Linked DNA regions of Homo sapiens. The protein of the gene in region 3 purifies or fractionates together with the protein of the main gene of each other region. This does not show direct contact. Each region holds a gene or a part of one and is shown on either strand. Other genes may lie near its edges.

Region 1 (7,093 bases), on a different chromosome or scaffold from region 3:
GCATCTAGTGGGTAGAGACCCCTGAGATGCTGCTGAAATCCTACCACAATCAAGACCTATTTAGACCAAAAGTCAACAGCACCAAATGAGACACTGTCTTAGTAGGATCTCACCATGTGATAACCCCCCAGTACCTCAAGCACATACATACAAGTCCAATAAAAATTCCAGAAACTCAGCTCCCAAAACCACTTTGATACGTTAAAGTTGATTCGATGAAAGAGAAAACTAGCAGTGTCAGTTAGAGTTGCTGATGTGACCTGTTTGATTGTTTCTTTGTTGTTTTTGAGAAAAAGACAAATTATTTTGCTAAGGTTCATCTACGAAAGTAAGTTGGAATAAATAATTTCTATAGTTTCTTTGAGATGCAAAGTCTTATGATTACAGGCATATAAGGTGGCTGAAATTCTAACAGCCTATTCTGGGATTTTTTTGTAACTTAAAAAATAATATTTCTGTGAGGCTGAAAAGCTAAGACCAAATTATTGTCCTTTAAAATGTGGGGAAGCCTTCCCTATGAGATTTTCATCAATACACAAGAAATACAAACAGCCAAAACAACTGCAGAAATTTAAAGCCTATAAATTTGCTATTTGTGGGGCTTCTTCTTGCCCATGGAAAAGGTTTGACAGACTGAGAGAAACAAGAGAAAATTACCACTGAGCTGTAACTCTTTCCCTTCAAAGCTGTAACATGAAATGCATACAACCAGAAACTTTAAAACTGCACCTGTGTTACCTGCTGTGTCATATACATTGGTAACACTAATGGTGACAATCAGCTTTATTTTCTGTTGGTTTATCTAAACTACTCTGGAAATGTTACACAAATGTGAGTCAATGAGCAATTTTAAAATGCAACTCTAGGAAAAACTACCTAGTTACTTTTCAGTGTAAGCTCCCACAGTGGAATCTCATTTTTTAAATCCATCAGTTCAAAAAAGGTACCATTTTTTTAGATATATTAAAAGCCAATGCCTACAGACACTTTTAACAGATTAAATGCAGAGTGTGATTATTTACATAGTAAGAACTAGAAAAGAATTTCTAAAATGTTCCTCAGAAGTAAGCATCTTCTAATATATACACATACACACACACACATACACATACGTGTGTATAAAATTTTACATACTTTTTTAAAAACAAGTTTTTTTCCCCTTTTGGAAAGAAAGAAGCACATGTATAACTGAGTATGATTTCCTGTGTCTGAACTCAACCTGCACTGAACTGAACTGTTGCTGCACATTTTTGGGAATCACGATTTGAAATCGGCATACTTCAGGGCACCTTCCTTGAGTGGGTCACAAAACACAACTCCACTTTCTCCACCTCACCTAACCCCATTCTTGCATCTCATCTATACTATCAGGGAGACCACTTCAGTGAGACCACTGAAACCTCAATTCAATGATCAGACTCTTGTCACTCAACAACAGGTCATCTTCTACAGACCAAGTCTGCTCTGCAAAACACAGCATGATCTAAATTCCATTTGCAATTTTTTTCCAAGTATTTGTGTGTGTATGTGTATGTATATATATATGTGTGTGTATATATATATGTGTATATATGTGTATATATATGTATATATGTATATATATGTATATATATATTTGTGTGTGTATGCAAAGTATCAGAAAAATACACACTGAAATGTTAATTGTGGTTATTGCCTGGAGTAGTAGACTTATGTGTAATTTTTTTCTTTTTTTGCTTGTCTACAGCTTCCAACTTTTTCTATATTAAACATAAAAGAAAAATAAGTTACATCCCATATGTGTATTTTTTTACTCTTTCTGATTTCAAAAAGAATTCTGAAAAAAATTCTTTAAAGAAAAAGCAACAAGTACACAAAGATTCCTTTCAAAGTGAGGGCAGTTAGAGACAAGGGCAAGAAGAAGAGCAACATAACCTCAAGAAGCCAAAGGTTAAAACTCACCAGCATGCAAGTGCCAGTGTCATATTTATTGGCTGGAGGGAGGAACACAATTGGCTCTAAGTTTACTGGCTTCCATAGAACATTCCTCCCCATCCTCTTCACCTCACCCCCACCAGCCTTAATTAAGTTTTGTTTAGGGAAAGATGAGAATATTTTTCAGCATTCCCTGAACTCACTCCCACATGAGATCACATGGTTCCTGAAATGTGTTCAGGGAGAAGGAGCTAGCTGCAAACACAACCAATAGAGCCCTAACTATACTAACCCACTGACTCCAGGGGAAAGTGTGTCTGCATACACCAGCTCAGAACCCCCAAAATGGCATTGCTTTAATTTCCTAAAGATGCCTCTCTGTGTGCAATTCACTGCTTATGAAGGCAGTGGCAAAGGACATTCAGTCCATGACAAGACCATATCTGGGAGCTTCTAGGGCCATTTCAAGGCCAAGGCACACTTTAATGGAGAGGTCCCAGAAACAGTGCTTACCATAAGCTGTCATGACTCCAGCGTATGGCCCATCCACCACATTCCTGTTTTCTTCTGCCAGTGCCTTGATGTACCTTTTGCTGAGGTCCAGGATCTGCTCGCGCAGCATGGAGCTGCTTTCAGGCTGAGTTCGCTGCTGGATGGTAAAGTGCAGAAGCATCATACCCCAAATGAAGCCAAAAGTCACCAGGAAAAAGCCCAGCTTCTGAGAGGACAACTTCCACGGAGTGAAGAGAGCCATTGCTCTCTGGCAACTTCACCTGTCCTTGGCTCTTAACGCGTAGAAGATAGACACAAATTCATGGTGTAGGTTGAGTGTGAGAGTCTGCTGGTCTCACTCTGGCTCCTGTGTCAGCTGGTTGCCTTTCCTCACTTCCATTCTGCTGTGAAGGAGGAGAAGAATTAGCCAAGTGGTCATGGCACAATACAGCAAAATAAACCAGAAGCCATGTTTTCACTTGAATACCTCTAAGTAAAATGTCAACTCTTAAATTTGCTGGTTCAATATCTTATGATTCAGGAACTGTAAGCTGAGGGGAAATCTGGCTAGGCAACAAGAAGCTAAGCAATTATGAAGGGGGAAGTGTGCGTCTGCGTGTGTTAACAGGTGTAGTGGGGCTGTTCCAGCCTGGACCAAATTCAAAACAGGAAGTTTGTTTTGCAAGGTGGGGAGGAGACAGAAGGATATTTGGCGGAATGTCAGCAAAAACGGGGAGGGTGGAGTCATATCACCATCAGGCCCTTTTGTGTGCCTGTAACTTAAGCTTACAAAGTCATTATTATGTGCTTCTGGCAAGGACTAGAACATGCAACTGGTGAGGTGAGCAAGAAAGTGGATGCCCCCTTGGGGGTAACTAGACAAAGAAGAGGTAGATTGCTACATCTTATTTGAGCATGGCCAGCTTTCACCATCAGTGTTTAGTGATGAGATGGCTCTCTCAGGGCCACCAGGCAACCTCTCTAGGTGCACCAGCACAGAGAAGATATGCCAGAGGTACAAGCAGGGGTATTGCTTTCCCAGCTACATGAGGAAAAGGTACACCTCACTGCTCACTTGCATGCTGTAGCACAAGAAATGTGGAACACCTGGCAGGCAGATTTTCTGTGGTTCTCACTTTCACTCCCACCATGAGGCAAAATGAGACATTAAAAGGCAGAGTAGTTTCAATATTAATGCAGCCAGATCCTATCTAATGCCAGCACAGACCAGGCCACTCTTCTCAATCAGGGCTTCCCAACAAGTAGGACCTGAGCATAGGTTGCAAATGGTTACCAGCATGCCCACCCCTTCAGCCAGAGTCCTGGGCCCAATACCAGTCAGCTTACGAATAGCGCCATTTTCTAAGTGCCACTCAAGGGAGAGGCTGAGCAATGATCCGATCCCTTATAAGAGACTAACCCAGGCTGTACTTCAGAGTGTACATACATGCTTCAGTCAAAGGATTCTTCTTTGCAAGCGGCCCAAAAGAAAATGGTAGCAGGATCTTGAAGCAATTAGCTTTCAGAGCCCTGGATCACTGTTGGTCTGCCTCTTACTGTTTTCCCATTGCCTATCAACAGAGTAAAAATAAATTATAAATTCTAGCTATATCCCAGATATTGTGACATACCATCTTTTGTGGCTTTGCTCACTGAATCCTCAGAAGTTCTATATGGTAAGAAGTATGAATATTATCGTCTCTGTTTTATTAGAAACATGAGAAAATAAAGGTAAAAGGTGATTAACTTGGCAAAGGTCAGCCAGCTATGTGGCAGAGGACTGATCATCTAGGCATGGCCCAGGGGTTATTAAACCATGCCCCACCTTCCCTACATCATCCTCACTCCCCCAACAGCCTGTTTGTATATGGCAGAGAATGATATATATATGCTTAATGGGTCATGAAAAGCAATAAAAAATATGTAACAGATACTCTTTGTAGCCCAGAAGGCCTAAAATATTTACTATCTACCTCTTAACAGAGAAGGTTTGCCAACCTCTCAATTCTAGACCAGTGGTTCTCCAAATGTGGTCCCAAACTCAGTAACAGCAGCATCACCAGTGAGAAATGTGAATTCTCAGGCCCCACCCACACCCACTGAATCAGCAACTGAGGAGATGTGGTCCACAGCCTATCCTTTAACAAGCCTCGAGGTGATTCTGATGCACACTCATGTTTCAGAGCCCTTGACCAGGCAGCCTGATTCCAGACCCATACATTCCATCACTATTCAACACCCACCACAATGCCTATTAAAATGAGGCTCAACCTCTGTCTTGTACTATCATAACGTAAGTTCCTCTGCCCCATCACACCCCTCTCCCACTACGTACCTGCTGGTCTGCTCATTACCATAAACCCTGCACATGCTTCCTGAGAGGCTTCCCCTTCTTCACTCGGCTGCTCCTCCCACCCAGCTGGCACATGAGTGCTCTCTATTATGCTGACAATCAAACCCAGCCTGTTTGCCAGACCCCAGCTCTAGTCCCACCACCTGCCTCAGACCACTTTCCCCAGGGCTCCAGCCTGCAGTGTTCCTTTCCTAGTCTTACAACACTTCTCTGACAATGGAATACTATTCAACCAGAAAAAGAGAGAGAAATCCTGTCTTTTGCAGCAACAGGGATATACCCGAAGGACATTATGCTAAATGAAATAATCCAGGCACAGAAAGGCAACTACCGTACAATCTCACATGCAGAAGCTAAAAAGTTGCTATCATAGGAGATAACAGAACAGTGGTTACCAGGGGTGGGGAGGAGAGAGGGGGATGAGGAGGGAGTGGTCAATGGGTAAAAAGTTACATTTAGGAGGAATAAGTTCTGGTGTTCTATTGCACAGCAAGGTGACTATGGTTAATAATAACGTATATTTCTAAAAGAGACAATTTTAAGTGTTCTCACCACAAAAGTAATAATTATTTGGGGGTGATGTGCATGCTAACTATCCTAATTTGATCATTTCACAATGTATATGTGGATTGAATCTCACATGGTACTCCATTATTATGTATAATTATTGTATCAAATTTAAAAAAATTTTTAAAACAGGGAATAAAGGAGTATTATGAGTTAAAAACACCTGTCTACCTTGGATTGTTCAAAGTTTCTATGTGGGACTCTATGACATCCTTTAGGGAGCCCCTCCCCACACACACACCTTCTCAGAGAAAGGCACTGACCACAGTGGCACAATAAAGTATCTGCTAAATGAATATGTCGCCTAGGGCACTACAGCACTTTATTCAGCCCTTCTAACTGCAGGCCAGCCAACTAGCACCTGCCCTCTTTCCTTCCTCCACTCCGCTCCGCGCCAAGTCTATATTGAGCATGAGCGGCCATCAGGCCCTGGTGACTGAACAGTGAACAAGATGGAGTTTCCACCCCATCAGAATTACACTCTGACAGCCACATTACGAACTAGGTGCTGCACCTAGCTCCAAGGGAATTGGCTTTTTTTTTTTTTGATAACCCATACTCATTACTCATTACTTAATTTTGAACCAGGGCTGAAGGAATTTTCCTAGAGCAAGCCAATGAGGTGCTACATCAAAAAAGGTGATTTTTCTTTCACTATTTTAGTAAAGAGCCCGAATCACTGGTAGGAATTAGCTGTCCACTTTCAGACAGGAAACCCCACTCTACTTCCTCAATTAACCCTACTGAATAGGCTGCTCAAGCTATGGAGTTAAAACAAAGGAAAGATCAAGGGCTAGGAACTGAACAATAGCTTCCTTAGAAGGTAGAAGGCTTCTTCTCTGCCCTTGCCTTGGAGAAGGTCAGACACATCCAGATGGTGTATCAGAGGCGCAAAGAGATGGCCAAAAAATCTCAGCCTAGGTAAAATTATCCCAGTTCAGAGACATGCAAATTTGAAGTGAAAATCCCTAGCTATGCGGAGTTCAGAGTACAGTTCTGATTAGTGAGGGCCCAGATTTTAAGTGACTATAGAAGTGCCAGGAAACTTCTCTTCTCCAGTGGTACTTAGAGCTTGAAATAATAGAAACAATATCAGTATACACACAGCACACACAGAGAATCACAGAATGCATCTCTACAATTCCTATTAAGATGACAGAACTTAAGACTTTTCAAAAGCATTATTCAGGAGACACCCCTATCTCTCACAGTAACAGGTGGACAATGAGGAGGAAAATGAACAGCCATCCTCATAGTCTTGGTGCCACAAAATGACAATGAAGATCATCAGGAATGACCAGACAATTAATGAGGAAGCCCTAGACTAACAGTGATCAAGAAGTTGTTGCTGGAGCTAAGAAGATGCCTACCTCCAGACCTTCTAACGGCTGTGTCCTCTAGCTAAGTCATCCAATGGGCACAGTGGGACTATACAGTGGATCTCAGAAGACCTTGTTGCCAACCAGAGTAATGTCAGCTCATGGCCGTGACTTCATCAATTCACTTCCAGAAAAAAGTTTGCACCAAGTCTGTTTGCAGAATTAGCCACCTCAATATGCATCCCCTCTATCCTCCTACTTTCTAAAAGAGTAGCAATCACCTTGTTCCTTCCCACTGACGCCTCAACACAACAAAATCATCTTCAACCTTTATAAAGATGGTTAGAGATCTCTGGCAAAGAAATGTGTCAATTCTCCTGAAAGAAAGAAAAAAAAAGCACATGAAAAGATGCTCAACATCATTAGTCATTAGAGGAAATGCAAATCA
Region 2 (8,009 bases), on a different chromosome or scaffold from region 3:
ATCCCAACATTAACTGAAACTCAGACCAAAGTTCAGATACCAAAGACATACTTGTGGAAGGATGTTGGGTTAAAATCATCCATGTCTCATTCTAATCTTTATCAGGATAAATTGAAAACAGTAGGCTTACATGGAGCTAAGAAAGATCTTCCTCTTTAATTCACATAAACAATCTGAAACCATGACTCTTCACTGTAATTCATTTTTAGACCTATTATTTTACAGCTTTTTAAATTTTTGTTTGTTTGTTTGTTTGAGATAGGGTCTCACTCTGTCCCCTAGGCTGGAGTGCAGTGGTACAATCACAGCTCACTGCAGCCTTGATCTCATGGGCTCAGGTAATCCTCCTACCTCAGCCACCCAGGTAGCTGGGACTACAGGCACACACCACCATGCCTGGCTAATTTTTTGTATTTTTTGTGGAGACAGGGTTTCACCATGTTGCCCAGGCTAAAGCGATCCGCCTGCCCAGCCTCCCAAAGTGTTGGGATTACAGGCATGAGCCACAGCACCCAGCCCATAGCCCTAATTTCTTTTTTTTGAGACAGAATCTCGCTGTCGCCCCAGCTGGAGTGCAGTGGCTCAATCTCAGCTCACTGCAGGCTCCGCCTCCCGGGTTCACGCCATTCTCCTGCCTCAGCCTCCCGAGCAGCTGGGACTACAGGCGCCGCCACCTCGCCCGGCTAATTTTTTGTATTTTTAGTAGAGACGGGGTTTCACCGTGTTAGCCAGGATGGTCTCGATCTCCTGACCTTGTGATCCGCCCACCTCAGCCTCCCAAAGTGCTGGGATTACAGGCGTGAGCCACCGCGCCCGGCCAGCCCTAATTTCTAATTTTATTTTTGCCAAACAAATTTATGCATTTGAAACCATAATAATATAACAATATTCTCAGTATAAATCATTTGGAACCCTATTTCCCTTCCCTCTGTTTTCCTTAGCAATGTGTCTTTTAACTCCAATGACATACATGCATGCAGAATCTGAATCAACAATATACAGTTAAAAAGAAAAAACAGTGAGGGAAAAACTGAAAAAACTTTAAGTACAACATTCTTTTAGGCAACAAATACTTGCTGTGTGTTAATGCTGTGTGTCAGACACTACCTAAGCACAGAGGATACAGAAATAAATAAAACAATCCCTATCCTCAAGGAGCTTACACTCCAATGGAGAACAGATATTCAAATAACATAAATAAGTGGGTGAGCCCAGGACATATTTACAAACACTGCAGCAAATTCAGTAGAAGGCTGTGCTAACAAGCCTTCCAGTCACCACCACCCTAACACTGTTAACAGCCCGGCTTTATAACCTCATTTGAATTTTGTGACATTACCCTCAGAATAAGAAATCTTTCAGAAAATTAACACAGTGTAGGTGCGTTTTCCATAACCATGCTGAACAATTTTTTAGCACTCAAAAGGCCAAATACAATGAATCACACTTAAGTTCATCTTCAGTCCCTGGAGGCAACAGAAAGAAATCAACAAATATACCAAACACTTACCATGTAATAAAATCTTTTCGCAAGAGTATGTATAAGTATTATTTTGGCTACAGTTGCAGTTCCATACAGACAAACGGAGACATAGAAGTGGTTATACCATGAGAGAGACTGTCCAATAAGAGAGATGAACACTGCTATAATGAGAACGGTAACAAGGCTAGTGAACCAGCTGATCAAAGTGATGCCAAGTCCACACAAGAAGTCCTTCTTGTAGTTACCAGCTAATGAAGAGAAAACAAAAAGTTGAAATCACCATCTTCATCAAATCAGTTATATAACCAGTCAGTAGAGCTAAATGGGCAAACATTAAAACAAAAAACTCCCCACTGTACTTGAAAAGTATGAAAATGTCCTAGTGTTGAGATTGGCCAAACACAAGAACAAGGGAGGTATCAAATAATAATATTCAGGTAACATTTATTAAGAGTCTCTAGATACTAAACACTCAAAAAGATAAATCTTCTAGGAATAGTTCAGGTACATTCCTTATGAAGGAAGAGGATAGTCTTAATCTTCTTCACTTTTGGTATGCTTTGTGTATCAAAATATTAGCAAGAATGGAAGGCAAAGTTCCATATAAAATGTTGTTAAAATAAGGTAACATAAGAAGATAAGGAGTGTGGGGAAAATAAGCGTTGATAAAGAATTATTTAAACTGCTGCTAAATATTTTATCTCGTAACAGCACACAACAACTTAGACTCTGAAACATTTCAAGCAGAAATATTTCAAATAAAAGAAACAGTTTAACCACAAGCAGTTCATTCATACTTCGTGACACTGGTCCATACTAGCTATTGGTCTGTAGTGTGGACTTTTTAATGGGACTTTTCATTAGAAGTCAATCTGTACAAACCATTTTTCAATAGTTTCTATGTGGTACTTTTATGGAGTGCCTAAATATATAAAAATTGACTGCTTCACCAAGACTAAAAGTAAAATAAGCATATTAATTTAATATTTAAAAATTTCTTACAATATAAAGCAAACATTGTCTTAAGATTTTTAGCTTTCTGGGAAGATATAAACAAACTGACTGAAAAACTTCAAGCACATTCTACAGCAATGCCAGTATTTGTAGTTTTAGAGGAAAATACTTACTCTTATGTTTGGGCTGCAAAAATTTTTTGCCCAGGTACAAAACAACACCCATTACCACCATGTAGTTTATGATTGAGCCAATACGAGAGGGGTAGGCAATGACAAACAGGCCCAGCACATCAAAGAAGACCATGTTTCCATGTCGATACTTAGAAGCAGCAGCCAGCATATCAGATGTAGCTAGATGCTTAAGAACTGCTAAAATGTTGTCACCTATTAGTAAAAACAAAAAAAAAAAGAAAGAAAAGGAAAAAGATAAAAAGGCTGAATAAACTATTTGTGATTTACACATACCACTATTTAAAGCAGAAATAAACCATATACTGTTTGAATGAAGAAATGGTTAGAAAGAATGTGAACAGAAATCGCTTTCTACCATCCTACTGCTCTCCCTCACTTTTTTTACTAAATTTCTCAAATAAGGTCCATCCCCTGCCTTTCTCCATTTCCTCTCCACTCAGACGCTCAGCCAACTGGCCTGTATCTTTTCCCTTCTATTAGAACTATTCTCTGTGATCAATTGTACCTTCATTGTTGACAAATCCAATGGCTGTTTCTTGGTACCCATTCATTTAATAATATATATTAACTGTACTAGACACTCTTCTAGATATCAGAAATTTAGTGGTGAACCAAGAGACAAAGGCCTTTCACGAAGCTCAGAGATGCTGAACAAGCTGTCACACATGTGTTAAAAATTGAGGAGAGCTAGCAGAGTTCCACAGGAAAACATCATGGGAGACTAACAGAGCTACATTCTTACCACTCAGCAATCCTCCCAACCCTGGGCCAACTCCTTTTTCATTTCCTCACAATGAATATTCCTGACCTTAATTGCTACACTAGACTACAAGACTAAAATTCAAGATCTCATCTCTCCAACTCCAAAGCCCTAGCTCATTCACATTGCATACTGCCTCTCTAATGCACAGGCCACAGAATATTTACAAGTTTATGTATCATCCCTAACATTCCATCTTAGTGTATATCAAAAGTCTAAATTGGAATACCAACCTGCTCTCTGAATGGAATCTGTTAGAATTCTGTCCGCTGTGTCATACTTGGTGTGATAAATGTATCCATTCTCAATAAAAGCTAAGTCTATTCCTAAAACATATATATAGAAAAAAAAAAGTCATTTTGCTTTAAAGATCAACCTTGCTTTCGACCTATTTCTTTAATAAATTCCTAAAAGACAAAATGTCAAAGCAGTGGCACGATTGCTTTGTCACATTTACAAACGACTGATATAAATTCTCTTCCAAATTCTTACACAGTCTATAGCTTTGGTACATAATTCGATACATAATGATTGAAGAAGTATATTACTCCACAGGTAGGCATTACAAGTCACACAGCAAGGATAGGAATATTGAGTTTGGGAGGTCATGAAAATTTTGCCACCTACATTCTTGCCAGGCCAGAGCCAAATTTTAACTTCAAATAAGTTGTACATACAAGTTGCCAAGGGAGTTGGCAAACCAAGACAACAACGAAAGACCCCTGAAGGATCTATTACCATCTTTTGGGAATGAGGTGCTAAACAGTTCACCCCTGTTCTTCTATGGGGAAAGATGACATATTTTAGAGGAGGCCAGCATTTAAATTAGTATGGAGTTTAAAAAAGGAAACAAACTCTGTTTTAGTGAGTCAATGTATATTTCTCACATAAAGAATTTGATCTCAGAAAATGCTGTTTACTCACATACTTTCAAGATTTAAAATTTGCTTTTGATAAATAAATGCTGCACAGTAGGCCGTAACCATTGACAATATACCTGGAATGTTCCCAAAATCCCTGTAGATACGAAAGTCAGTATCTGAAGGAATGATTCCACTCTGAAAAACCTCCTGAGCCACCACAGAAGCAAAAGGGTGTTTAGCTGCTGAAACATAAGCTTGAACCAACCAAGGATTTTCAGGACCTAAAATGAAAGATGACAACACAATAGAAGGTATTCCGGCAATTTTTTTTAACATACTAATGTTTTTCAACACATAGAAAACAGTAAAAGTGGTGGTTTTGGGAGACGGGTCCAATATGTACCTTTTCATCCCTTTTTCTGTAGTTTCCAATGTTTCTCTGATATATGTGTTTGACTTTTAGAATAAAAACCTTTTGTGAAAATAAAGTATAAAATAACAGCAATACAAAAGTCTGTCTGAAAATGAAAGATCATTCATAAATCTATCATCCTAAAATGCCTATTATCAATTGTATATCTTTAATTTTCTTACTAATGTAGAATTGTGTGTATATAGCTGTACTCAAGATATATATACTTTGTACATTTGTTTTCACTTAACATTATATTAAATGCATTTTCCTATGTTGCTAGATACAAATTGGGTATACCTTATCTGAAATGCTTGGGATCAGAAGTATTTTGGATTTTTTACTTTTTCGGATTTTGGAATATCTGCATTATACTAGTAAGCATCCCTAATCCTAAAATCCAAAATCAGAAATGCTCCAATGAACATTTTTGAGCATCATGTCAGTGCTCAAAAAGTTGTGAATTGTGGAGCATTATGGATTTCAAATTTTCAGATTAGGGATGCTCAATCTGTATTATAATAATCATTTTGATAACTGCTTAACATTTCACTGAATATGCCATAAAGTTCCTTGTTACTTTTTATAATTTATCATTATTAATAATTTTCCATCTGTATCTCATACATCTACAGCTTTTTCAAATGGGAGTTTTTCCTGTAGGATAGTGGGATACATTGTTTTATAATTTATATAATTATATAATTATACGTATATTTATATAATTATAATTATATAATTATATGTATAATTGTATAATTATTCACTCTTCCCTCGCTGAAAAAGGATTATACATTCCTACTCTTGCCACATACCTTGTAATGCCTGCCTGGGGAATGAGTACATACTCTTCTGTACCTATTAACTGCAGGCGTGGCTACATGACTTGCTCTAGCCAACAGACTGTGAGGAGGAATGACATGACCCTCAACTGGGCAGAGTTTTCAAAGGCATTAACATCATTCATACTTATCCTTAACTTTGATTTGTGAGATCAATACATCCCTTATAGGGGCTTCTCCTTCAGCCTGGATCCCAGAATGAATAAGACACATGGAACATAATAACCGTGGACCATAACTGCAGTTATTCAGAAACCAAAATGCAACACGAGCAAGAAATAAGCCTTTGCTGTTGTAAACCACCAAGATTTTGGGGTTGTTACCACAAAACTTAGCAACATATTGACTGATGTAAACAGACCAAGTAACTGAATGTCAGGGAATCTAAGAATATTGTTTTTTTAACTTCACAGATTATAAAATTGCTTTCCTACATTTTAAAAAATGACCAAGGCTGGGTGCAGTGGCTCACGCATATAATCCCAGCACTTTAGGAGGCCGAGGTGGGCAGAGCACCTGAGGTCAGGCATTTAAGACCAGCCTGGCCAACATGGCAAAACCCCACCTCTACTAAAAATACAAAAATAAGCAGGGCATGGTAATCCCAGCTGCTCAGGAGGCTGAGGCAGGAGAATTGCTTAGACCTGTGAGGTGAAGGCTGCACTGAGCCAAGATTGTGCCACTGCACTCCAGCCTGGGTGACAGAGTGAGACTCCATCTGAAAAAATAAAAATTAAAAATTAAAAATGACCCAAAAAAGCAGAGGGACCCTATAGAAACAGACATACAAGTAATCCAGATACTGGAGTTACCAGACACAGATTCTAAAATAATTATGATTAATATGTTTTAAAAAACACAGATATCAGTAATTTCACCAGACAAGTATAATCTATTTAAAAGAGTCCTACAAATGGAAATCCTAGAATGAAAAAACATAACTGATGTTGCGAATTTTAATAAATGGGCTTAACACAAAGTTTAATACAGCAGAAGAAAGGATTAAAATTAAAGCATAAAAAGAAAAAAAGGTTGGAAAATACACAAATGTGAGTAATTGGAGTCCCAAAAGAACAGAAGATAGAATGGAGAAGATAAATGTTTAAAGACTTAATGGCCAAGAATCTTCCAAAACTCATAGAATTCAAGCCACGAATTCAAAAAGGTCTACAAACCCCAAACAAGATAAATATAAAGAAAAACTGTATCTGGCACCATTTACTTTTGAATACTATTCCCCACCAAAAGAAACCAAGCCTCCTTAGAGAAATGGCTGATTCCAGGTCTGGGACTAGCAAAGTACAAGGTAAGTTGAAACATCTGTGCCAGAAAGTAAGAAAGTGATCAAAAAGACATGTCAAAGGGGCTCAGGCACTGATTTGAAATAGACACCACTGGCCTAAACTGGGACAATTCATGCAACAAAATAAACAATAGTAACAGAATATATAGAGTAAAATTAAAATACATAAAGTACTGAAATAACAAAAAAAAAAAAAAAAAAAGGAAAATGGAAAGCCTTCCTTCTTGCAGAATTCCAACTATGACCTACAGGCAGAATGATGGAACCAGAAACTCAGCAGTAGCATTTGGTAAACATTGTAATAAAAATGCTTGGGGACAAGAGTCATCAATGATTGCTAAAACTAGGATCAAAGTTTTATGACAAACAGGATATTTACCTAAAGTATCTATCACTAAGGGGAAATCAGTAACTTGTACAAAGAAAGAAATAGTAGAAAAACCTGGCAAATAAATACCTTAATCAAACGATGAAAATGTAGTATCATTAATAATGAGACAAACAGATACCACATGCATCCTGATGTGATGCACTGAGGACACAAATACAAAAGGAAAAAGAACTATGATGATGGGGAAATACGTACATTACGAGATCTTATCATATTAAAATACTATTATTAAAATATTACTATTTGATATTAAGAAATTTATGCTAAAAAATACAATGAAAACCATACTGAAAAACAGGTAAAGCCAAACTATCATTAATTATCTTAAAACTTAGGATAATAGTTCCTCTTAGATGGGAGGGAGTTGTATTTGAGAAGAGAGGTTAAAAAAAATGCCTAGGCAGGCAAGGCAATCCACCCTCTTCCATGAGACAGAGTTAAAAAGATTTTCACCTTACAATAATTAAGTTTTCAACTTTATAATTAAATGCTATATTTGATCCTGGGTAGGAACCCAGATTTTTTTTTAAATGGTTAGGACATTAATGGAACAACTGGAAAAATCTGAATATGCATTATTATAGTTTAATATTAATATTTCTTGAGTGTGATCAATGTTCTGTTACAGAAGAGCATGTCCCTGTTTATCTGAGATGATCATCCTGAGATTATCAATTGACATGATTTTTCTCTTTATTCTGATAATGTAGTGAATTACACAGATTGATTTTCAAATATTATACCATCCTGTTGATCAACTTGGTTGGAAAGTATTATCTTTTGTATATATAAATATTCCTGGATTCA
Region 3 (8,415 bases):
GTTATCTTTTGTGCTGATCAAAACTTTCTGGTATACTCCATGTAATTTTGAGACCTGTTTCATAAAATGTTCATGTTCAGAAATTAAAGCCATCAGGGTTTTGGCTGTTTGGAACAGTTCAGCCAATTTATGAAGACTCCAACCTGCTGGCTCTTTCTGTCCCTTGCTGTTTTCTTTTTATCTCTATACAGTTTTGTTGCTCCCTTTACTTATTGATTCATCAGCCTTCCTCTGTAAAGCCCTCCTAATTCAGCAAGGCCTTCATTAGGGCTGTCCATGAAGAGATGGTCACCCACTTGTCTGGCCACCCGAATGTGTATTCACCAATTCACTCCTAATTAGAAACCCAAAAATCATTTACGTATTTTCTCGTAAGATTTGGCAAAATGTTCTAGAAACAGTTGCATGGCTACAAGTCATAAACGCCTACCTGTTAAATCTTCATCAAAATATCTTTATTCACTTTGCTCAACCCCTCTGTAGTAACTGGGGTCCTTGTTGCCATGATTTTGTGACAATGGCTCTTGATTTTGGTGACAGATGATGCTAGGTTTATTATGGCCATAGTAAAGACCAAATTCAAAACACTCTTTTCTTTTTTTCCTTTTTTTTTTTCTATACTAGAATATCATTGTTTTGGCTGCACACAAGATGAAGTAAGTGGCTTTCATTTAGAGGCCATGTTTTACCAAAAAATATGTTTCTTAAAATACTAGATTCCCCTCAGCATAATGAGATACTCACTTTTGGGGAGGGTGTCAGAAATTGCTGGAGCAACAGATTAATGATCCCCATTTCAGTTTCACATCAGGCATGGGCTCATTGAACACAATGGCTGGTGGGTGAAGTCACCCATACTGTTAAATTATCCTCTCTCTCTGACTGAACACATATGCTTAAATTAGGATAAAAGTTAGGACTATTCTCAATTGTCTTTTAAAGCTTGAGAGGGGAGTGGGCTCTCACTATGAAGAAAAATATATTTCTTAAGACGGATGATCTTTTTAAATGCTTAAACACCAAGTATATATATTTTCGAACATAGCAAATTGCAATTAATTAATGAATCCACTGAATTTTACCTTCTAGTTGAATTTGCAAGGTCATATGAGTAAACACTGATGTGAATTTTAAGTCTTGGTGACATGTAACAGGAAAGACAAGGTCTAAATTTTAAGAAAAGACTGAAAAGCCACTTACTTCTTGCAAATGGAAGAAAACTCTGTGCTATTTGAATTATTGTTTAAGAAAATCCTATGCAGTTTAAGAAAAACAGGATAAGAACTAACACAAAATGCTGCTTTTCTTTAGACAGATCATTAAGTCTCTCCACCTAAACTCTTGAAAAATCTGTAACGATTTTGTCTGCTTGTCAAATTGCTCCTCCAGTAATTTCACAGTTACAACCCACGCACATATCGACAGAGCATTTCGATTCAAATGTAACTTTCTAACAACAAACTTATATAGAAAAGGTGTCATAGGCGTAATTGAGAGGAACAGAAGATCAAGAGTGAAGAAAATTACATCTTCTTTTCTCAATTAAGAAAAAAACCTAAATCATAAATATTGTATTCATATACATTTACAAACTGATAGACCACTAAACGTTTTTTCTGATTTAAAACTGCTTTCCACCACTGCTGCTGGTGCATATATTAATGAGGAAAAACCCACTGTGACAGAAATCTTCCCCTCACGGCATAGCCACCTCCACCCCCATAAAAGAAAGCTTTTCAGTGTTACCTGAGAAAAAAACATCACAACTAATTACATCATTTTTCTTGGTTCCCGCATCTACCAAGGCTTGCTCAGACACATTCAACCTGTTACCACAATCCATGATTTAACTCAAGGTTTTATTTAGTGTAATGAATATCATTCCTCTATTTAAAATGCTGTTTATCTTTCCTTAAGCAAATTGATCGGCCAATAAGTATCATTATTAGGTATTACAAAAAAGATGTTGTCATAAGGTAATTTATTCTAAGTTAAAATAGTCCACTGAGATGTCTTGTAAGAACAGAAATTACCATTAAAATGTCCCATTTACAATCACTGATGAAAACTTGGGCTATTTGTGCATATAATAAAGGGAGCTGAGGTTTTTTAATTTAAAAATAGATCACATGCTATTAATGTAGATTTTTGTGTTTCTATTACAGATTATCATGAATAAGGGTACTAAGGACTAAAATTGGGAAATCAACTTATCTATTATCTCTTGCTTATATAAAACCTTCATGTATTTAATATCGATGGTCCTTTATTACGTGTGTGTGTGTGTGTGTATGCACCATATATGCCTCAAAGTATGTGTGTGTACATTAAGAGAAGAAACCCAGCATAGCTAAATGGCTAAAAATATGGTAACTATACTGTGCTTCCACCCTATATATTTTATCACATAAAATACAGTTTTTTACGATAAGTGCCTTTATATACATTTGAAATTAACTTTGACAGCTGAATCTTTTTCAACACTACTCTTGAATATTACCTTTATGTAGTATTACCTGTGTTACTGCTTCAGTACTAAGAAAATGAGACCATTTTCTCTGACATTACATAAGCCCGACAGCAGACGAGAGAAACGCTGCCTATCTGGGGTGAAAGCTAGCTCCCTCTGAAGCTACCATTTGACACGTTAAAACAATTCTCGAGTTGATTGAATCATTCCAAATTACCAATATTTGACCATTTCAACCTTCAAAAATGGAAATTTCACTTTAACTCATACAGCCAGATATACCTAGACAAGCTTTAAAAACACATAAAAAAATTTCCTTTAACATTATTACTCAGAAGTTGATTACAGTCAACTATATAGAAAGGAAAATCTTAACGCTTCCATACACCCTGAAAATTTATGAACTTTTGCTCCATCTGCTTAAACCTATATTGCATCCTCGTTTTTAGTTTTTATTTTTTAAAGATTGTTTTAAAAAGGTGCACCAATCAAAAGATAATTAATGGTCTTGGTCTTTGTTCTATCAGATGTCCATGCAAAGATATGGATAATGGTTCCATCACCAAATTTTTAACTAACTCCAAATATTGTATTTGTGGCTCACACTAGGGATCCCTTGACCCAGCTCGGCAAGTGTGAAATCACGAAATAAATGAAGGTTAACAAAGACTGGTCTAAGGAATAGTTCACTACAATACCGCAATGCTCTTCTCACTAATACTCGACTCTGCATTTCGGTACTTATATCTGAAAGATTTGCAAATAATGACAACATTCGTGCCAGACATTACTGCAAGTGAGGAACAGACTAAAGGAGAGGAAGGAACAAAATGCCTTCCAAGAGAGAAACATTCATTAGCCTTACTGGCAAGTGTCTAAAGCAAACAAGGAAACTGCAAAATAATTACTTAGTTACAAATAAACGCTTTTAGCACAGTACCTTTTTGTGTCTGTCCCTCTTCCATATTCTCTTCCATGGCTACCTTTCTTCAGTAGAATCTGGTACACGGAATTAATCAAAAGCTCAATTAGATGTTGGAAAAACTGGGGGTTTTTTTTTTTTTTTTTTTTTTTTTTTTTTTTTTTTTTTCCTGGGAAGCTCCAACAGCAGTGGCTTGGGCAAGTCCTCAGAGCTTAGCTCAGGCTCCCTCGTTCCTCTTGTTTGCTTGGAGACAGGCTGTCAAGTGTAATTTCATTCAAATTACTCTTCCGTGAAGATTATCAATTTTTCTTCTCAAAGCTGCCCATTGTGTACCACTGTAAGCAGGTATTCAAACAAATAGCCTGAGAATTTTGGGGGGAAATTTGGTCTGAATCCCAGGAGCAGAGACACTATGATTCACAAGTCTTGCTTTGCATTTAAAATGGGGAAAAGAAATTGAGGTTTGTATTGAAATCTGGGCTTTAAATTGGAAACAGGCTGAGCTGTGAACAGATGGAGGGGTGTCCTCCTAACATGAAGCCGACCACCAACCCGTAATTCCCCCCTTCATTCCAGAGTGGGAAAGCCCAGATTCCCGTCGGTTCTTTATGCTGCAGCAGTGGCTTCTCACCCAGTCAGATACGTTGCAAAAAAACTGTGTTTTCCTTTTCTCTCCTCACTAAGTATTTAGTTAATTTGATTTAAGGTGCCAAGAAAGGATGCAGTTATACCATCTCAGGGTTTATCTGCAAAAGTTTATTACTAAGACAGGACTTGTAATCCCACACCTTTGAGATTTAAAAAGAAATAGAAGCGTGGCTGTCAAAGGAGTGAGTATAAAGCTCTAAGCCTGAGAGATACATGTTTTAAGTAATTATTTTACTTAGTGCCATATGACTCTTAAGTAAAAGGGAGAAAACCACTGGAAGGAAAAACCCTATTGATGTCTTTGTTATTTATTGTTATGATTATAGCCCACGAAAGCTGCTGGTTTCCAATGAGAATCTCTTGAAAGGGAATTTCTTTAAAGGTCAGTGTTAGGGAATGAGAAGAGTGATGTAAGGGAGGAACAAATTTTAGATAAGAAACAAGAGGATAGCAATTTATAATGGGAATCTGCAAGCTGATTTGGAATGCAAATCACAATGCTGCAGTCTGGCGATAATTAGCATTTGTACTTCAGCCTACTGAGTGACAGGGCACAGTCCAAGAGTCTCAATACTTCACAAAAGGTATAGCAAGAAAATAAACAGTATCTCTTTCAAGGAGCATAAACCTTTCCTAGAGTAGAAAGAAAGGATCCTTGCCTCTGTCTTCATCTCCAAATCAGCCAGCACACACACACACAGGGACAGAAACACACACAGAGGGACAGAAAGACACACACAAGCACACACACGGAGAGGCACACACACACACAAGGACACACACACAGACATAACTGTAACTCTCTGCCTTTAATGAAAAATAGCTCACATCCTCATTATCCATAGCATACGTTTCTTGCATTATAGCTTGTATTTCACATGCATTCTTTAAAGCAGGCCAGTAGCATGCTGCACATCACCCTCTAAATATTACAAAAGCAGCTATTTAGAGGAAACACAATTACTGCATTCCACTTTATTTCTCATAAATGAATGTTTAGTCCTCTTACTTGTATAATCATTTGTTATTATTTTCTCTTTTCAAATGAATTTTGTCCAAAAATAACTGGAGTTCAAATAACTCAAAACCTATCTCTTTGGAATATATATCAATGTGTATTCAAGGGTTTTTGAGAGAGCTGCTTGCTCAGTGCACAGATTGAGAGAGAGAAACCATAAGGGAAATCAAAAAGCCAAATTGTAGCAGCCTCTCTGCTTCAACTCATCCCTAGGCTGACATAACCTGGCATATAATCAACACAGAACGGAGCAACGCTCCTCATTTAGATCCTTCATTCGTTTTATACCATGGAAATCATTAGTGAAAGCAATTGTTTATTGTAGTGCCAGTAGATACAATAATGTCACCTTAAATTTTTAGAACACTTTACAATCTATAAAACATGATTACATACATTAACCCGTTGTAAGTCAAATGGGAAAAGCATAATTTTCCCCACTTTATGATGAAAACAAAAAACAAAAAACACGGATGCTCAGGGACACCTAGAGACTGGGCTAATAAATCACCAAGTAAGTCTTAGAACCCATGTCTGTTGATTTCTTGCCTAATGTTCTGATCTTAGAAGCTAATTTTCCTTCCTACTCTGTTCCTTTATGAGTATCTTCAGCATCTTCAGAAATCAGCCTCAGTTCATAGCTTTCTTTTTCACCACACATATAAAGCAAAAGAGGGAAATGAGAGGGAAAGGAAATTTTAAAAATATTCATGATTTCTTTTTCTTCTGGAAATTTTGCAGCAGAATACACTCATATAACCATTCACTTTTTGTCTAAAACAGGCTTTTTCATGTGACAATTGTTACCAACATAAGTCAACATCAACTTGTACCAATTTTTAAAATATACAAAAAAGTCCTCAGAGCCAGTCCAAATGGACTCGTCAAATGAATTAAGAGAGATGCATACACATACATAGCCTCCTCACAGCAATCACCTGTCAGTAGGCTTTCAGTATTTATTGGGGTAAAATATAAAAGAAAAATTTGCCATTTTGATCATTTTTAAATCTGTAGTTCAGTGGCATTAGGTACATTCACATCATTCTGTAACCATGGCCACCAGCTATCTCCAGGACTTTTTCATCTCCACAAACTGAAACTCTGTGCCCATTAAAAACGCACTCCTCCTTTCCCCTTCCTCCTGTTTGATGGCAGTTGAGTTGTTGATGATTTTCTCTTTTTTTTTTGAGATGGAGTCTCGTTCTTTTGCCCAGGCCAGAGTGCAGTGGCATGATCTCAGCTCACTGCAACTTCTGCCTCCAGGGTTTGAGCAATTCTCCTGCCTCAGCCTCCCGAGTAGCTGGGATTTCAGGCATGCACCACCACACCCAGTTAGTTTTTGTATTTTTAGTGGAGACCGGGTTGGTTTCACCATGTTGGCCAGGCTGGTGTCAAATTCCTGACCTCAGGTGATCCACCCACCTCGGCCTCCCAGAGTGCTGGGATTACAGGCGTGAGCCACCAAGCCCAGCCAAGTTGTTGTTGCTAATGGTGGTTTTAAGATTATTTTTTAAAATTTGGATCTCATTGGAAGTAAAAATATTTTGAACCTCCAGTATCTTAAACTAGTTAGAAAAGAAAATCGTTTCACATTATAGTAGATTTGCTTTATTAATTATAAAATATACTATATAAAGCTTAATAACTAGCAATGATGTGTCCTTATGGGGACTGAAATGCCTCATCTAATACTCTTTCCATTGTATCGTATTGTATTTGCCCCATTCTACTCTTAGTCATTTATTTAAAATATATGGGCTGTAGGCAGTGGCTCATGCCTGTAATCAAAACACATTTTGAGGCCAGGAGTTTGAGACCAGCCTAGGCAACATAGACAGTCCTCATCACTACAAATATTTTCTACTCTTTTTCTTTTCTTTTTTTTTTTTTTTTGAGATGGAGTTTTGCTCTTGTTGACCAGGCTGGAGTGCAATGGCATGATCTCAGCTCACTAGAACCTCTGCCTCCCGGATTCAAGCGATTCTCCTGCCTCAGCCTCCCAAGTATCGAGGATTACAGGCATGTGTCACCATGCCCAGTTAATTTTGTATTTTTAGCAGAGACGGGGTTTCTCCATGTTGGTCAGGCTGGTCTCGAACTCCCAACCTCAGGTGATCCGCCTACCTCGGCCTCCCAAAGTGCTGGGATTACAGGCGTGAGCCACCACACCTGGCCATTACAGACACTTTAAAAAAACAAATTATCCAACCATGGTGGTGCACACCTATAGTCCCAGCTACTGGGGAGGCTGAGGCAGGGGAATCACGGGAGCCCGGGAGGTTGAGGCTGCAGTGAGCTATGCTCACATCACCGCACTGCAGCCTGGGCCACAGGGTAGGACCCTGCCTCTAAAAAATAAAATAAAACAAATATAAGTTAACTAGGTGGTTAAAAATATGATTATATTTTTATCAAGTCAGATTTCCCTTTCAAATACTGTCTAAGAAATGTTTATAATGTATATTACTTTTTTCTTATGTGAGCTCACTCAATCCAAAACCATTATAATTCTCTTTCATTTTTCTTAATCTTAATTTGGAGCTTCCTTTAACACTTCATCTTGTCTTTATGGATAAACACATTATTATATACAATAAGTAAATATCGACATATTCCTCTATTATGTAATGCAGTCATCTTTGTGATACAATGTTCATAATATAGACAAGTAAGGAGAGTTAACAGATTAAAGAAGTTGTGGTTCCAAATATCGCATTAACTATAAAAAGTGAGGGGGAAAAATGTTCGTAGTCCCTGGGTCAGAGAACAGAGAGGAGATGTGGAAAAGAAGATCATGAAAACCTAGCCCAGTGCATAGGACTAACAGGCAGGAACACGGTTTAGAAACTGCCTTTTATTCTACGTCAAATGTTTCAGACACAGAATTAACATTATCTCTAGAATGAAATGTCTTAGTTGGGATCTTCTTATATTTTGACAGAGAAAAAGGACCCCTTTGTCTGCTGCTTTAAGCTCCAAGTCAGAAACTGACTTTCATAACATTTTCTTTTCTTTTTTTTATTTTTATTTTTTTTTTGAGACGGAGTCTCGCTCAAAGCCCAGGCTGGAGTGCAGCGGCGCGGTCTCGGCTCACTGCAAGCTCCGCCTCCCGGGTTCACGCCATTCTCCTGCCTCAGCCTCCCGAGGAGCTGGGACTACACCCCGCCACCACGCCCGGCTAATTTTTTTTGTATTTGTAGTAGAGATGGGGTTTCACCGTGGTAGCCAGGATGGTCTCGATCTCCTGACTTCGTGATCCGCCCGCCTCGGCCTCCCAAAGTGCTGGGATTACGGGCGTGAGCCACCGCCCCGCGGCCAACATTTTCTTAAAGAAAGTCAAAACCACCACAAACA
Region 4 (8,215 bases), on a different chromosome or scaffold from region 3:
CCCAGCAGTTTGGGAGGCCGAGGTGGGCAGATCACGAGGTCAGGAGATCGAGACCATCCTGGCTAACATGGTGAAACCCTGTCTCTACCAAAAATACAAAAAATTAGCCAGGCGTGGTGGCGGGCGCCTGTAGTCCCAACTACTCGGGAGGCTGAGGCAGGAGAATGGCATGAACCCGGGAGGCGGAGCTTGCAGTGAGCCGAGATTGTGCCACTGCACTCCAGCCTGGGCGATAGAGCGAGACTCCATCTCAAAAACAAAACAAAACAAACGAAAAAAAACAACTCTATGAGTTAAGTACTGTTAATATCTGCCTTTAACAGAGAAGAAAACTGAGACAGAGGGAAGTGCCACACCAAAAGTGGAGGCCAGAAGCGGAGGAGCCAGGATTCAAATCCAGGATCTGTCGTCTTAAGCACTATGTTATTTACTTAGGAAAATAATATAAATAAATAATAATAACTGAGCATTTACCAAATGCCAGGAGCTTTCACACACATTCACTTTCCCATAGAGCACTCACATTTACCCTGGGAGGAAGGTGCCATTGTTCCATTTTATAGACAAGAAATCTAAGGCTCAGAAAAGTTCAGTACCTTGCCAGGGTCACACTCACACAACCAGCATGAACAGATTAAACCACGGTTTGGATAGCCCCCAGACTCATGCTGTTTCTCCCATACCATATGTGGTTTTTTATTTTTTATTTTTATTTTTCTGAGACAGGATCTCACTCTGTCCCCCAGGCTTGCGTGCAGTGGCACAATCACACCTCACTGCAGCCTCAAACTCCTGGGCTCAAGCAATCCTCCTGCCTCAGCCTCACAAATAGCTGGGATTACAGGTGTGTACCAATGTGCCTGGCTAATTTTTTTTAATTATTATTTTTGTGGAGATGGGGCCTTGCTATGTTGCCCCCACTGGTCTTGAACTCCAGGCCTCAAGCAATTATCCTGCCTCAGCCTCCCAAAGTGCTGGGATTATAGATATGAGCCATGCACCTGGCCTGGTTCTTTCCTAATGGCAGAAACAGTCTTACAACAATGAGCTTTACTTTAAGCCAAAGACACGGGTTCAACTCTTGACTCTGACTTAACTTATTATACCTCCTACCTCTCCAGCCCTCAGTTTCTTCAGCTATTAAACAGAGCTGGGGGGACCAAATGATTTTTTTTTTTTTGAGACAGAGTTTTCACTCTTATTACCCAGGAGTGCAGTGGCACGATCTCGGCTCACTGCAACCTCCGCCTCCCGGGTTCAAGCAATTCTCCTGCCTCAGCCTCCGGAGTAGCTGGGATTACAGGCACCTACCACCACACTCGGCTAATTTTTGTATTTTTATTTTTATTTATTTATTTATTTTGAGACAAAGTCTCACTCTGCCATCCAGGCTGGAATGCAGTGGCATGATCTCAGCTCACTGCAACCTCCGCCTCCCAGGTTCAAGTGATTCTCTTGCCTCAGCCTCCTCAGTAGTTGGAATTACAGGCACGCACCACCACGCCAGGCTAATTTTTGTATTTTTAGTAGAGATGGGGTTTCACCACGTTGGCCAGGCTGGTCTTGAACTCCTGACCTCAAGTGATCCACCTGCCTTGGCCTCCCAAAGTGCCTGGATTACAGGTGTGAGCCACTGCGCCCAGCCTGGTTCTTTCCTAACGGCAGAAACAGTCTTGCAACAAGGTCTTACTTTAAGCCAAAAGACCGGGGTTCAAATCTTCACTCTTACGGGTTCAAATCTTCACTCTTACTTAACTTACTATACCTCCTACCTTTCCAGGCCTCAGTTTCTTCAGCTATCAAACAGAGCTGAGAGGACCAAATGATTTTTAAGGTCCCTTCTATATCCCAGGATTCACTAGTTCCCTCTCATTAATCAGCACAGAGGCTTGGAACAAAACTCCAGGATCCATGACTACCTTCAAACAACAGGGGTGTGTTGTCAGCCAGGCCACTTGGCTCCCAGCTCACCTAGGCCAGAGGAAGCAGCAGCTGCCTTGTCCGCCTCCCCAGCGTTCACGAAAGGTGGCTGACCTAAACCCAGGACAGAGACTTGGGGCCACTACCACTCTCATGATCTATTCTTAGCCCAGCCTCTCAGGGTGGGTGAGGAAGGAAGGTGGACCAAGGACAGAAGGACTTTTTTCTAGGTTCCAATGGATTCTCAGGCACCACCCCCAGGCCTGTCACTAAAATCTTCACTGGGACTGATAAGGAAGATCTTGCCAGAGCCAAGACCCGTCAGGCATTTGAGGAAGCTGCCTGTGAAAGGAACCAGGGTTTTAAGCAGATAACCAAAGTTGGGCTGACTTTCAGGACACGCCAGAGACACTTATTCTGGAAAACACTTAGGCTCACATCAAGGGAGCAGTTTTATCTTTCAGAGTTTCCCTTTATGACCGCAACAGAGTTTTTGTGCAATAAACTTACTAACCGGGAGTTTTGAAAAAAGCAAGTAAGCAAGCAAAGGAGTGGATGGGTGGAGTTAAGGAGATGTCTCAAAGCGCCCAGCTGGGATTGCTTTTCTGGGCCACTGCCATGCATTCTGAGTGGCTGAGATGATCCAAGGAGATCCAGGGGAAAGGGCACAGACTAGGGGGTTCCAGCCCTCTGTGAGTATCTCACAGGCGGGGGCTCTGCCTGTCACAGGCTGGGGCGAGGCTCTTCCACAGGTCGTAAAGGGATTCTGTCACGCGCTGGAGGGATCTGATCTGACGCAGGGTGGGGTCTGCGCGGGGTCTGCCACAGGCAGGCAGGACAGAGGTGAGATGGCATCTCCCAAACAGGGCAGGGGTCAGCTCCTAACTCCAAGGGGAGGCGGGGGAGTGGTGACAGGGGCTGGTTCATCCCCACCCCATTCCACACCCCTACATATACAGAGACACACACGACCCCGCTTGTCACCACCTGCCCAGTCAAGCTCATGCTGCCCAAAGTGGGTCTGCAAACACTAACTGCTAGTGACACCAGCTACCCCGGGGCCTCCCAGGCGTGACACGCGTGCAGATGCTGCTGTCACGGCTAGGAGGAGGACCTCCCCTCCAATGACTCGTCCACCACGGCAGCTAGCACCGGCTTCTCTGGGCGAGGCGACAGCGGGCCGGCTCGGGCGGGGACAGCGGAGGACCGGGGTGCACTCACACGTTGAGGACGTTGCGCTTGTTGCTGAGGTAGCTCTCGGGCAACGGGGACAACTCCTTGAGGAGGGAGCCCGCCAGCATGGAGGCCACCAGGGCCCAGGGCAGGTAGCGCCGCACGGCCGCCCGCACCAGCGTCCCCCGCAACAACCACTCGCAGCGCTCCAGATGCTCCATGCCGGATCTCGTCAGCCACCGTCCTCCTCTCCGTGCCCTCTCGGCCACCGTATCGCCCTTCGCCCGGACCTGCGCCTCCACCTCCCTTCGAGCGCATGCGCACTGCCCGCGAGTCCCACAGCTTGAGGCGTGCTTGGGCTCCGGAGCCCGCGCGCTCCCCCTCGTGGCCGCTGCTGCCTCTGGCGCGTGACGGTCCCCGAACTCGCTCGTCTCCTCTGCGCTCTCCTGGCCGCCTCCTCTCCCCGAGCCTCCGCGTCTTGCTCTGGTCTGGGAAAAAGCGCTTGTGAAAGTATTTGCTGGAGGCTGGAAGAGGATAAATGTAGCCCTGGAGAATTGGAGCAGTAGTCACAGCATCATTTGATCTTTCTTGGAGCCTCGGAGACACCTCTGCCATCTGAGTCTTAGTTTTCTCATCTGTAAAATGCGAGAGACAAGAGGAGATCAACCTTTCCCAAAAGCTAGTTTATGAGCTCAGGGGTTCATTACGTTGGCACACGTAGAGGGACATGAGATGAAGTTTCCTTAGGAATAATTATTGTATTTATTTATTTATTAGTTAGTTGGGGGGGGGTCCCTCTCTGTCGCCCAGGCTGGAGTGCAATGGCACCGTCGCAGCTCACCGCAACCTCAAATTTCTGGTCTCAAGCAATACTCCCACCTCAGCCTCCCGAGTAGCTGGGACCACAGGCGGGCACCACCACACCTGGCTAATTTTTTTTATTTTTATTTCTGTAGAGACAGGGTTTTGCTTCGTTGTCGAGGCTGGTCTCAAACTCCTGGGCTCAAGCGATCCTCCTGCCTCGGCTTCCTAAAATGCTGCAATTACAAGTGTGAGCCACCACGCTCTGCAGTTATTAAATTAATTAATTAATATAATTAATTTATTTAGAGACATAGTCTCGCTCTGTTGCCCAGGCTGGAATGCAGTGGCGCGATCTCAGCTCACTGCAGGCCTCTGCCTCCCAGGTTCAAGCGATTCTCCTGCCTCAGCCTCCCGAGTAGCTGGGATTACAGGCACGCACCACCACACCCAGCTAATTTTTGTATTTTTAGTAGAGATGGGGTTTCACCATGTCGGCCAGGCTGACCAACTCCTGTCCTCAAGTGATCTGACCTCTCCAAATCTTAACCTCAAGTGATCTGCCAGCCTTCACCTCCCAAAGTGCTGAGATTACAGGAGTGAGCCATCTCACCTGGTGCAATTATTACATTTAAAGTTTAAATTTCTAAATTTATTTTCACCTGGGCAACACAGTGAGACTCAGTATCTATAAGAAATAATTTTAAAAACTAGCTGACTTGGTGGCTCAGGCCTGTGGTCCCAGCTACTCAGGAGGCTGAGGTGGGAGGATTGCTTGAGCCCAGGAATTTGAGGTTGCAGTGAGCTGTGATGGTCCCATTGCACTCCAGCCTGGGCCACGGAGCGAGACCGTCTTAAAAAGCACACAAAGAAACACAAAACAGCTATCTATGCCTGTTGGATGAAAATGCTGGATGCTGGGGGTTAATGGGGAGATCACATGAAGTTGTTGGAGACTCAGTTGCTCAGTTTATCACAAAACTAACCCCTCACCCCTGGTTAGGGCTGGGTGTCTATTTCAGTTCCCAACCTTGGACTCATTCCCTTACCCCAATGTTAGTTTCCTGTGGCAGCTCTAATAAATTACTATAAACTCAGTTTATTTTTATTCCTTTTTTTTTCTTTAGTTTTAAATAGAGATGGGGTCTCACTATGTTGCCCAGGTTGATCTCGAACGCCTGGGCTCCAGTGATCCTCCTGCCTCGGCCTCCCAAAGTGCTAGGATTACAGGTGCGAGCCACCGTGCCCAACCCTAAACTTGTTTTAAACAACAGAAGTTTATTCCAAAAGCCACAAACCCAGCCAATACACACATATATAGTCATATCAAGAGATGGGCATTTTAGGCCAGACGTGGTGGCTCACGCCTGTAATCCCAGCACTTTGGGAGGCCAAGCTATTTTGATCTTGGCTCACTGTAACCTCTGCCTCCCGGGTTCAAGGTAGTCTCCTGCCTCACCCTCCCAAGCAGCTGGGACTACAGGCACATGCCACCACACCTGGCTAATTTTTTTGTATTTTTAGACAGGGTTTCGCCATGTTGACCAGGCTGGTCTCCAACTCCTAGCCTCAAGTGATCTTCCTGCCTCTGCCTCTCAAAGTGCTGGGATTACAGGCGTGAGCCACCACACCCGGCCCAAAGAAAAATTTCTATCGAAATATTCATCATCACTAGCTGCCCAAAATAATTTTGTGTCTCTATACCAAGGACAGCTACCACACTGGGAAATGTTAGCCTGATTTATGCCTACAATGGACTAATGTTTATAGTCTCATGCAGAGAATCAACAAATTAATGAAAATAATAATTCCTTAAAACCATCTTAAGATGACCTTCATATCTGTAAATTGCATTTATCTGATTAGAGTTCTTATATAGCAAGATGCTTCCAGGCCTTCAGAATGCTTGGTTTAAAAAATAAAATATAGTGATAATTATACCAATTTGGCATTTCATGATTGGGAATAAAAACTACATAGCCAGAAAGGGGTTATTTATGAAGGCAGCTTGTAAATAGTATCTGATACCATCTCTGTCTCCTTGAGTTTGTCAGGTGCTCAATTACTGTGGCTTTCCTTAGCAAACAGCATAAGAATTAAGAGCAGGGATGCTGGGTTTGAGTGCCGGTTCTCCTCCTTATTAGCTGTGTGGTTCCTCCAAAGAAAATCCAGATACGTCCCCCAACCCAAGAAGGAGGGAAAGACTGCTCGGTGAATATAAACACTAAATATCACCCCGAGGGACTGTCCAAAGAGTACCTTCTGAAAGGTTCAGGATTTGTATTTTTGAGAAAGGAAATGGGTTTGTTTCCTTTGAAACTGCAGTTTCATTCCTGGAGAGTTTTCTTTCCCTCCCTCCCTTCCTTCCTTCCTTCCATTTTCTCTTTTCTTTTTTTCTTTTTCTTTTTTTTTTTTTTTTTGAGACAGGATCTTGCTCTGCACTCCCAGGCTGGAGGGCAGTGGTGCGATCATAGCTCACTGTAGCCTTGAACTCCTGGCCTCAAGCAATCCTCCTGCCTCAGCATCCAAAGTGCTGGGATTACAGGCATGAGCCACCACGCTTGGCCACCATGGCTGGAGATTTTTGAAGACTGGGTTAAACTCAACCTGAAAAAATTGTTGCAGGTCTCTAGAGAAGTTTTTGTATTTAAAAAAAAATTGAATCAGTATTGGGAAATACATATTTATGTTGTGAGTGAAATGATGTGCTGTAGTCAACTCATACCAGCCTGCAAGAGCTGATGATTAAATTTTCAGAACTTTTGCGGGGTGATTGTCAAACACAGCCATATTAAGAACTGCATTATAGGGCCTGGGCCTGTTGGCTCACCCCTGTAATCCCAGCACTTTGGGAGGCCAAGACAGGTGAATCGCTTAAGCCCAGGAGTTCCAGACCAGCCTGGGTAACATAGGGAGATCCCATCTCTACAAAAAATACGAAAATTAGCCAAACATGGTGGTGTGTGCCTGCAGTCCCAGCTACTCAGGAGGCTGAGGTGGGAGGATGGCTTGAGCCCAGGAGACTGAGGCTGCAGTAAGCTGTGATCATGCCACTGCTCTCCAGCCTGAGTAACAGAGCAAAATCCTCTCTCAAAAAAAAAAAAAGTTACATATATAAAAAAACAAACTGAAAATACTCAAAACTCATTAGTTACTAATTATTTTACTATGTTTTATTATTATCTATGCTCTTGGGGTAACTTACATCTATTGTTCCTGTATGGTAAGCTCCTGCACAACTCTTCCCAAATCTATTCAGTGATGTCACATTGAGAGCTTGAAATCAGCCACAGGGGGAGTATTTACACTATGGAAATTGGCAGGTGCTACAAATCAGGGATTTATTTGGTTTGTCTACATTGAGAGTCAACTCCATTTGTCAAAACATGGTTGAATTGAAACCACAGGTTGCCTATGGTTACAAGAATCCAACAAAAATCAATAAAAGCATTCTGTGAGAATCAATTAGCTATAGTTATAACAAAGAGTATTTATATATTTCTTTTCTTTCTTTCTTTTTTTTTTTTTTAAGACAAGTTCTCACTCTGTTGCCCAGGCTGGAGTGCAGTGGTGTGATTATGGCTCACTGCAGCCTTAATCTCCTGGGCTCAAGTGATCCTCCCACCTCAGCATCCCGAGTAGCTGGGACTACAGGCGGACTAAATCAGCCATCACCTCTAGCTAATTTTTGTACATTTTTTGGTACAGATGTGGTTTTGCCATGTTGCCCAGGCTGGTCTCAAACTCCTGGGCTCAAGCAATCTGCACATCTCAACCTCCTAAAGTGCTGGGATTACAGGTGTAAGCCACCAAGCCTGGCCATATATTTTATTATTTGTAAATAATGTGCTACACATTAAGAAACATTTATAATAAACATAGGTAGGTATATGCTTATACATGTTTCCCTAGAGAGCCAATAGTAAACCTTTATTTTATTTTATTTTTTATTTTTTTGAGACAGAGTCTTGCTTTGTCTCCCAGGCTGGAGCGCAGTGGCACGATCTCGGCTCACCGCAACCTCCACCTCCCAGGTTCAAGCGATTCTCCTGCCTCAGCCTCCTAAGTAGCTGGGATTACAGACATGCATCACCACACCTGGATAATTTTTGTATTTTTAGTACGGATGGGGTTTTACCATGTTGGCAGGTGTGAGCCACCACGCCTGGCCTTAATAGTTAAACTTTTTTTTTTTTTTTTTTTTTTGAGACAGAGTCTGCCTCTGTCGCCCAGGCTGGAGTACGGTAGCGGCGATCTCGGCTCTCTGCAAGCTCCGCCTCCCGGGTTCACGCCATTCTCCTGCCTCAGCCTCTGAGCAGCT

The links.
Region 1: the proteins of GPM6A (region 3) and MGAT5 purify together in Homo sapiens (affinity purification with mass spectrometry; 4 studies listed by BioGRID and IntAct, with this or other methods). This does not show direct contact.
Region 2: the proteins of GPM6A (region 3) and ERMP1 purify together in Homo sapiens (affinity purification with mass spectrometry; 3 studies listed by BioGRID and IntAct, with this or other methods). This does not show direct contact.
Region 4: the proteins of GPM6A (region 3) and FITM2 purify together in Homo sapiens (affinity purification with mass spectrometry; 4 studies listed by BioGRID and IntAct, with this or other methods). This does not show direct contact.

Annotation. Positions count from the first base shown.
Region 1 is NC_000002.12:134,249,979-134,257,071, reverse strand, and holds the start of MGAT5 (alpha-1,6-mannosylglycoprotein 6-beta-N-acetylglucosaminyltransferase A), read right to left. Parts: upstream 3,001-7,093; 5' UTR 2,669-3,000; coding exon 2,428-2,668; intron 1-2,427. UniProt on the Homo sapiens protein: Catalyzes the addition of N-acetylglucosamine (GlcNAc) in beta 1-6 linkage to the alpha-linked mannose of biantennary N-linked oligosaccharides.
Region 2 is NC_000009.12:5,808,501-5,816,509, forward strand, and holds part of ERMP1 (endoplasmic reticulum metallopeptidase 1), read right to left. Parts: intron 4,536-8,009; coding exon 4,389-4,535; intron 3,718-4,388; coding exon 3,625-3,717; intron 2,824-3,624; coding exon 2,611-2,823; intron 1,732-2,610; coding exon 1,511-1,731; intron 1-1,510. UniProt on the Homo sapiens protein: Within the ovary, required for the organization of somatic cells and oocytes into discrete follicular structures.
Region 3 is NC_000004.12:175,808,781-175,817,195, forward strand, and holds the start of GPM6A (neuronal membrane glycoprotein M6-a), read right to left. Parts: upstream 3,485-8,415; 5' UTR 3,448-3,484; coding exon 3,411-3,447; intron 3,410-3,410; exon of another isoform or gene 3,080-3,409; intron 1-3,079. UniProt on the Homo sapiens protein: Involved in neuronal differentiation, including differentiation and migration of neuronal stem cells. Plays a role in neuronal plasticity and is involved in neurite and filopodia outgrowth, filopodia motility and probably synapse formation.
Region 4 is NC_000020.11:44,307,835-44,316,049, forward strand, and holds the start of FITM2 (acyl-coenzyme A diphosphatase FITM2), read right to left. Parts: upstream 3,369-8,215; 5' UTR 3,315-3,368; coding exon 3,142-3,314; intron 1-3,141. UniProt on the Homo sapiens protein: Fatty acyl-coenzyme A (CoA) diphosphatase that hydrolyzes fatty acyl-CoA to yield acyl-4'-phosphopantetheine and adenosine 3',5'-bisphosphate.